Regions from separate parts of the Homo sapiens genome. Here region 2 is linked to region 1. The links come from fine-mapping of genetic effects on gene expression. A gene starts in region 1. The other region holds a variant in brackets. All regions are shown on one strand. Distances are between the middles of the regions. Region 1 holds the start of RHEX (regulator of hemoglobinization and erythroid cell expansion). Region 2 overlaps RHEX (regulator of hemoglobinization and erythroid cell expansion).

Region 1 (4,393 bases):
GACTTAAATCCTGTAGCTATTTGATTTCGGACTTTAAATTGATCTGGTGTTCCTTGCGGGGCTTCGATTGCATCTAAATAGATGTGAGAGTTGAAAGACCCATAAGGGGCTTCTCTCGCTTTACGATGTCTTATTATTTTTTTTTTCCTTCCTCTGGTTGATGAAATGCCAGGGTGAAAGGGATAGCCAAATAGGCTAAAGCACAAGTGCCACTCTAGTTATTCGGCAGAGTGCCCAATAAAGGTCCACGACAATACCATCACACATCCGCTCGGGGATGAACAAGGGCTGACTGACTGATAAGCTCTTGAAAATTCTTAAGCTCACTGCATCCCTTCAGGTCTCCAAGGAATGCTAAGTCTCCTCCCTGCCATGAGAGACATGAAGTGAACTTAGTGTTGGGAGACGGAAGCTGGACGGCCCTCAGGGGCTGACCCGCAGGGACTTTGGGATATAGCAGAGAGAGCTTGGCATGACTTATTACTCCAAGCTGTAGAAACCTGGAAAATAGCTACCCTGCAGCCCATGCCTGGTCAACTGGAGGACCACCTTAGTGGAAGGGGGACAATCAGGGCCTCTGGCCTGCCATGTGCACAAGCATAACAATTGCATTTGTTTAAAGTGCAGATGGAATATTTGATCCATTTCAGCCAGGCACTTGCATCTTGGCGTGCTGTCTTAATTGCCAAAGTTTGTTTTAAGTCTTTAACTTTTATGATCCTCTAGTAAAATGAATGTTTCCTTTAGCACCAATTTTTATTAGTTTTTAGACCAAAGAAAGCTAAACACCATTTTATATTTAATAATGTTTCTTGTATGATTTTTATACCAGATAAGCTAAATTTTACCTTTATATTAGTGTGTTATTAATTTTAAACTGAATTTTAATAAAACCTTGTAGACATATTTATCCAATTTTTCATGTTTGACCATAAGGTAAGATTTTATAGACTCTTTTTAACCTTTTATAATTTTTGTTAAAGAGCAGGTTGATGCTTTAAGAAAAACCTGTGGCATTTTTTACTTTAATGTCCAGTTCACAGAAAAACTGGATGATACCTTTTTAACTTTAGCTAATATGTTTACACACAGAATTTTCTTTATAATTAACGTTTTAAAACTTGCTTAAACTTTTAAAACAATAATTGTTTTTAACCTTTTAATGTAGGTAAAAATCCACATTCTTATGCCCCTTTATAATCTTTTTACCAAAGGTATGTTTTACTTTTCTTATACACCTTGCACATAAACTGTTTTTTTAATAGTACTCAGGAGGCCTTATTACTTTTAAATTATACAACATTTTTTGCATAAATTTTTTTATAACATTTTTTCTTTCACGACTTTTGCCGACAATTCTTCAATGTGTCTCAACTTTCTGACTTATTACAAACATTTTTTTTCTTTAAACACCAGTTAGTTTATTTCAGGACAAGAATTTACCATATAACACTCTTTTTACATAAATTCTGTCTCCCCCCACTTTTTTTTTTTTTTGAAGATAACCATTCCTTTTTTTTTTTTTTAAAGCAAACTTTCTTTATGCCTTTGGACTAGACTGTCTAAGGCCACAAGATTAGAAGTTACCATAATACATGTTACACTGTTAACTTTAAGCAAACTTCACTTTTGTTGAAAACCTTGTAAGTTTGGGATTTCAATTATCCTTTGCTATTAAGACCTTGTTTAGTCTAAATTAACTTAGAATTGGTATAGATGGCCTTTTTTTCTCTCTACTGGTCTTTCCTTGCCTCTGCCAGCCGCTTATGCTGCTGTTCTCTTAACTACGTTGGCGGGGCAAGGGGGTATAAAAGCAGCTGTAACTTTCTATGTATGGAAACTGGTCTGGGTGCCTTGGCTTACGGGTTACCTTGTGTCATACCTTTGAAACAAGGGACCTGTCCAGGCTTCCTTCTGATGGCCAACCCACCTCTAATGCTGGCCAGTCTATTTCACACAAAGTTCTAAGTTTTCCTGGTGTCACAGTAACACTGTAATCTCCCTTAAATTCTTTCTTGAATTTTTTTTTAACATAGTTCCTAGTGGGGTGGGCTTATTTGTACCTGACCCATGCTTCTTCGAGACAAAACACCACACCCACACCACACACATGCCACAAACAAAAAAACAGGTAAAAAGGGCATACACACTCTTGCAGTTTACACCAAACCAAAATCAAAACCAAAATCAGAGTATCCAGAAATCCAAGCCAGGTCAAAACCAAAACCAAAACCAAAGTATCACACAATCTAAGTCAAGTCAAAACCAGAACAGAAGTGCCAATGCAGGCATGTCGTGGGTGATCAGGCCACACTTCCACCTAGATGGAGTGGGGCAAGTTCCAAAGACTAGTCTTACCAAGTTTCAGATGTCCGGACTCCAAGTGCCAGTTCCTTCCCGGTGTTCAGCCACTGTGTTAATCCTCCACAGGGAACTGCTACACGCTGCTCTGGTGAGGCATTCCACCGGGGCAATTTCCTACCCGGGAGTGCTCTTTGGATCGCGTCACTCGGGCTGGCCGGAGTCCGCCTCAGGGATGCTCCACAGGGGAGGCCTAAGCCGCCTAAGGGGCTGCCTCGGCTGTCCATCAGTTACCTCGTTTCCTGGTCAGGGAACCAAGAAATGTAGCAGGACGAGCCGCAGACAAAACCCCTCAGACACCAAATTGTAGAAGGAAGGGCTTTATTCAGCTGGGAGCATCAGCAGGCTACTGCCTTAAAATCCGAGCTCCCCGAATGCACAATTTCCGTCCCTTTTAAGGGCTCACAATACTAAAGATTTCACATGAAAGGGTCATGATTGATTTGAGCAAGCAGGCGGTATGTGACAGGGGCTGCATGCACCGGTGGTCAGAGAGAAACAGAACAGGGCAGGGAGTTTCACAATGTTCTTCTATACAATGTCTGGAATCTATGAATAACATCAGTTTCTAAGTTATGAGTTGATTTTTAACTACTGGGTTTAGGCCAGGCAGGCCCAGGCCTGGTTTCGGGCCTGGCGCCGGACTGCCTGTCTTTGGTTTTACTTCCTTGTTGTTTTTCCTTAAAACAGGTACTGAGTATAAAACAATATAAAACAATATGAGAGGGTCTCTCTCTTCCCTCACAGTGACCTGGGTCTCAGACACTTCCTAACTGTGATCTTAGGACAAACACTTAGCTTTTCTGAGCCTCATCTGTGAAACAGACAGAATATGAATGCCTACCTCATGGAGTTGTTTAAGAACTCAGTGATCAGACTATTATTCAACAGTAATAACGAGCCAGGCCCAGTGGCTCACGCCTATAATCTCAGCACTTTGGGAAGTCAAGGCAGGAGGACCGCCTGAGCTCAAGAGTTTGAGACCAGCCTGGGCAATATAGCTAGACCTTGTCTCTACTTTAAAAAAAAAAAATCCGAAAATTAGCTGGGTGTGCTACTGCATGCCTGTAGTCCCAGCTCCTTGAGAGGCTGAGATAGGAGAATCACTTAAGCTAGGGAAGTCGAGGCTGCAGTGAGCCATGATCACACCATTGTACTCTAGCCTGGGTGACAGAGCAAGACCCTGTCACAAAAACAAACAAAGAAACAGAAGACAGGAATAACCACCATTTGTATTGTTCTAGTTTTCAGTTGGTCTTACCTGAGCAGAGTAATTGGGTGAGATTGTTCATGGAGGCATTGCTGGCTCTCTAGTCCTGGAACCTACAGTTGGTCCAATTCATTATGCCAAAGGGTCCGTCTAGGAGGTTCTTGTTCCAAGTATTGAGATTCCCGAGAGAAGTAGGTCCCCTTAGATAGAAGCAGAGTTTCTCAGAGGTATTTAGCAGCAGCTGGTGGACACAGGACTCAGGGAGCTGGCCCCCCTCTTCCCTTCCATGTCTTTCATTCCTGCATGGGAACCTGTCAGATGGGGAGATTGTTAAAATCTCACCACTGGAGGGGAGGGCCTCAAAGGCCATGGAGACAGCACCTCTCTCTTAGTGAAGGCATCTTCAGATAGAATTCAGCACAAATTCAAAGGTGGCTCCCCAGACCCTATCTGTCACATCGCCCTCTCATCTATTAGTATCTGAAGTCACCTTGATCATTTATTTGTTTACTTGATTATTGTCAGCCTCTCATCACATGAATGTGAGCTTCATAAGAACAGAGACCTTATCTGTTTTGGCCAACATTTCACCCCCAGTGTCTAGAAAGTGCCTCATGCAATGAATAGGTCCAATACATATTTCTTCAATAAATGAATGAATGAATGAATGCCAAAGACTCCTTCATAAAAGCCAGGGTCAACTGACCTCTGCCAGAATTTTGGAGAGCCTACACCACAGACTTTTGAACCTCTTAGCTGATGACAAATCTTTAGCCTTCGAAGCGGAAATTGATTTGAAAGAGCCCAAAGTACTCCGGTAAA
Region 2 (4,393 bases), 30 kb before region 1:
CTATAAAATGAGAGGAGTGGGCTAAATCAATTCAGTTCTGACATTTTGTTATTTTAGAATTTTTCTGAAATGGACTAAAAAGTGAGATTCAAAAGTGAGAAAGAGCAACTTTGAGCCTCAACTAGATAAACCACACCTCCAGTCACATTTATTTCTAGGTGCAAGCACTGCCAATTTCTAGCAGGAAAGCAAGTCATCCAGAGTTTCTAATTAGTAATTTTGGGGAAAGCAGTTTTGCAAGGAACTACTAGAGATGAATGCAATGTGGATGCAACTTAGTTCCAAGACTAAATCAGCAAGAACACAAAAAGTTGCAAGCTACTCAAGCAGTATTCATGGATTCATTTTGCTAGTTCCCACAAAGCTCCAGATGAATTAGAAGGGGTCAAATTATTCTGTTTCATCGATTGGCCTGCTAAATTTTAGGGAAACTAGGCACCTTCTACAGATTATGCACCCTCTATAGATTATGCATCTTGTTGGCTGGGACTGCATATATTACACTCCGCAATTCATAGCACAGTACGTAAAAACACGGCAGGGATAGGGATGGAAAAAGCATTTCAATGTGTAACACTCTGTACACATTGCTATTAAATCAATTTGCATATAATAAATGTTTAACCTTGGGGGAGCCACTTAATGTCTCAGAGTTTCGCTTTTCTCCTCTTTCAATTGGGCAGTCAAATGTCTCTTTATTTGACTTATTTTCCAGTTGAAGAAACTGAGGCAGCAAGGTGTTAAGGGACTCGACTGATTCAGTGAAAGAAAACTCTTCTGGAGAACTTTAGCACAGAAGAGTTAGACCAGGCCTTTCTCCATCTCTCCAACCCGGGGGTTGGGGGGAGCTCAGAATTATTAGGAGGGCTACATGAGACCATGGAAACTTCCAGTACCATTCCTGCCTCCTTGTCAGGATTCAGGGCCAGTGCTGGCTTCATGGACTTGTAACCTGTGCAGACTAGTAGGGCCCTGTGCTCACAAGGACCCCATGATTGGCCTGATGCTTTGTGGCTGTCATCTTTAAATTCGTAACAATTTTTGAGTAAGGGACCCCAGATTTTCATTTTGCGTTGTGTGCCACCAATTATGTAACAGATCCTACTCAAGGCATTTAATTGGGTAGTTTGCCAAAGCTCACAAAATAGGTCAACACACAGAACGAGAAGCAGGATCAGCCAATCAACAAGTCTTCCTTGAGTACCTGATACATGCTTCCCAGCACCGCATTGTCTGAGCCCCTCCCAGGTTGGAGAGATGGAGAAAAGCCTGATCTAACTCTTCTGTAATGAAATTCTCCAGAAGAGTTTTCTTTCACTGATTCAGTCAAGTCCCTTAACACCATGGCGCCTCAGTTTCTTCAACTGGAAAATAAGGCTGTTAGTAGCACTTACGTCTTTAGGTGTGAGGAATAAATGGGCCAATCTGCGTAAAATTCTTTGAACAGTCCTCGGCAGATACTAAGCTCTATATAAGGGTCGACTGTTTCTGTTTTGTGCTGTTATTAGCTTTTCCTTGTCCAGATGCTGGCATGGCTTTTTTCTTTCATGGTGCACATTCTCTGACCTCTATTCATAAAATTTTAAAACTCCCAGGCTGGCTCTCTTCCCTCCACACATACTAGTCCTTTGCTGCTCAGAGTGTTTTCTCAGGGAAAACATTCCTATAGGATGTTTATGGGGGAAGATATTCTGTGAGATCTGGTTCCCATTTGACTTAAAAAGGAAACTTCATAGCTGTTATTGGTGGAGCCTGTACTGGCACTAAATGTACATTGTCTGAATCCATGTAGCAACCCTGTAAGGTGGGTGTTTTATGCCCATTTTACAGATGAGGAAACTGAGGCTCACAAAAGTTTAGCAGAGTGAGGATTTGGAACCAGTTTTTGCTGGACCCAAAATCCATGTACCTTCTGGCCGAAGCCCCAATGGCTGCTGTTGCTAGTGTAGACAGATGTCAGGTCTCAGGCACAAGAAATTCATGTCCATAAAGTGTAATCTTAGGCTCACTGTAAGCTGATTGCAAGTGGAATTCCGCACCCTGGAATCTCAGCACATAAACAGAGAATCCTCTCTAAAACTTCTACACATATATGCTCGCAAACAAATGCACACTTCAAACTAATTTAAAATCCTGTCTCCATAGACAGTACTTACCCTTAGGACTATGAGCACAGTTTGATCCCAGTCTGTGTTTCAGCGATGTCCTAACGGAAATATCTCCCCGACCCTTCTCCAGCCCCTACCCAGAAGCTTCTGTGTCACTGGAGGTCAGTC[A/C]CAAGTGTTTCAACATTTCCAACAAGGCGGGAGCACTGCCACTCAGAAGATAGCAATCTCGCTCGTTGAGTACAGCAGGGTGAAGGGAGAGATAATGCCTCCTGTCTCTTTTGGCCATGCTCTGCCCAGCTCCCTGGTACAGACAGTTTGTGTAGATGGAGGAGATTAGTAATCTCTTTCTCTCCCTGTGGCACACATTTAGATACCACAAATACACACGCAGCCAGGTAGAGTGGAAAGAGCACTAAAGGAGGAGTTAAGAGGCCTAAGATCAAGTCCCAGCTCTGGCACCAATGTGCCACATGAGCTCAGACAATTTGTTTTTCCCTAAAGGGACTCATGTTCTTCCTCTGTAAAATGAAGAAGTAGGTCTCTAGATATTAGCAAAGATACTTTCCAACCTAGCTCATCTGTGAATCTATATGTGATGTATTCAAAGATTAAGTGAGTAGGGGACGTTGGGCAATAGATAAGAATAAATTTTTGAGGACAACTTCTTTGTCATTAAGCATCAAATGAGGCCAACCAAAAATGGCTGTTACAGTTTGTGGGATAACAGCAGGAAGGGAAGGAAGGCTGATTTCAGGCTCTTTGGAGGGCCTAAAATCCCAAAATAGAAACTTAAGAGGAAAGAAGAATGGGAGGAGGATAAAATGACCCAGATATAAAACAGACAAAGAAAACAGAGATTTGTAGGCCTCTATGATGTCAGTCCCTTGCTGTGAACAAATTGCCTGGTGCAATTTGAGTAATAGCTTCTGAGTTAGATATAGTCAGGTTTCAATCCTGGTTCCACTACTTGGCAACTGGGTGACTTGGGAAAAGTTACTTAACCTCTCTGATTGTCAGTTTTTTCATCTGTAAAATTGGGTTAATAATAAATATCTGATATTTTTTAAATCTCATAAGGTTGTTTAAGGTTAAATAATATAAGTAAGTAAGTGAAGCACTTAACAGAATGTCCTTTCTGTAGTGAACAACAGATGGTAGCTATTAACTTTTTTTTTTTTTTTGAGACGGAGTCTCTCTCTGTTGCCCAGGCTGGAGTGCCATGGTGCGACCTCGGCCCGCTGCAACCTCCGCCTCCTGGGTTCAAGCGATTCTCCTGCCTCAGCCTCCTGAGTAGCTGACATTACAGGTGAGTGCCACCACACCTGGCTAATTTTTGTATTTTTAGTAGAGACAGGGTTTCATCATGCTGGTCAGGAGCTGGTCTCAAACTCCTGACATCGTGCTTCACCCGCCTCAGCCTCCCAAAGTACTGGGATTACAGACATGAGCCACAGCGCCCAGCCGCTATTAACATTTTTATTCTCTAAATGCAAGTCAGAAAGCCACCCCTTGGGCTGAGTCCCTTTCAGTGTTTTATGACCCGTTGATGTATCACAGCTCACTGTGGAACTACGTCTATTGCTGCAGTTTGCTTCCCTTTGCATAGTTCATGTTAAAAACATGAAGCCTCTTTATTACTCAAGATTTGAGGAAAGCAGAACACTGGGAGCCATGTGGAGTGATTTCCTAACTGGGCTCTCCACCTGCTCTAGGTTTGCCCTGCCAGTGTCAATACACACTTCGCTCTGCTCCTGACTCAGCCATGGACACTAAGTAATCAATTCAAGCTACAGCTAACTGTGGGGATCATGCCAAGATGCTTGGCCTGCTATTTCTATTATCCATTCACAGGAACCCAGTGTAGATATGGCAGCATCCAATGTCACGTAACATTCATACAGCTCTAGCCTCTGTGTGGACCACTCTTGGACCAGAACCTTCCATGATGCTACTCCAAGATTCACAAGATCATAGGATTGTTAAAGATCTTTGAACACACATATTTCAGTGTCATTTTAGAGATCTTCAGTTGATTAAGGACAATGATGCGGCATTTTTATCATGTATCAGAGATAATGATTCCTTTAATTAAGCTACACTTCTGTGCACACTCTTGCTAGGACTGCGTTGCAGCAATATGCTTCTATCTTTATAAGATGCACCAGAGTTTAGTAGAAAATCCACTTGACTTGAACTTCAATGACCTAAAAATCTGAGGCATTTATCCCCTCTGGACTACATTTTTCTTATATCTCATTGTAAGAATTTTTGATTAGATCATTTCC

What was found. PIP is the estimated chance that this variant, and not a neighbour inherited with it, causes the effect.
Region 2: its variant is the best candidate, but not a certain one, in a credible set for the expression of RHEX in whole blood (TOPMed, PIP 0.51).

What each region holds. Positions count from the first base shown.
Region 1 is chr1:206,051,231-206,055,623 of GRCh38, reverse strand. It overlaps RHEX (regulator of hemoglobinization and erythroid cell expansion), which reads right to left and starts at 2,451. Exons shown (of 6, transcript NM_001007544.4): 1 at 2,359-2,451. LOC105372857 (a long non-coding RNA gene) reads left to right here. Exons shown (of 3, transcript XR_922473.3): 3 at 1-2,181. RefSeq lists enhancers at 2,336-2,395, 2,816-3,055.
Region 2 is chr1:206,081,414-206,085,806 of GRCh38, reverse strand. All of the region lies in intron 1 of RHEX (regulator of hemoglobinization and erythroid cell expansion), which reads right to left. Among named protein-coding and RNA genes, the nearest start is that of RHEX, 30 kb to the right of the region's middle. The variant A/C (reference allele first, on the strand shown) is at 2,277.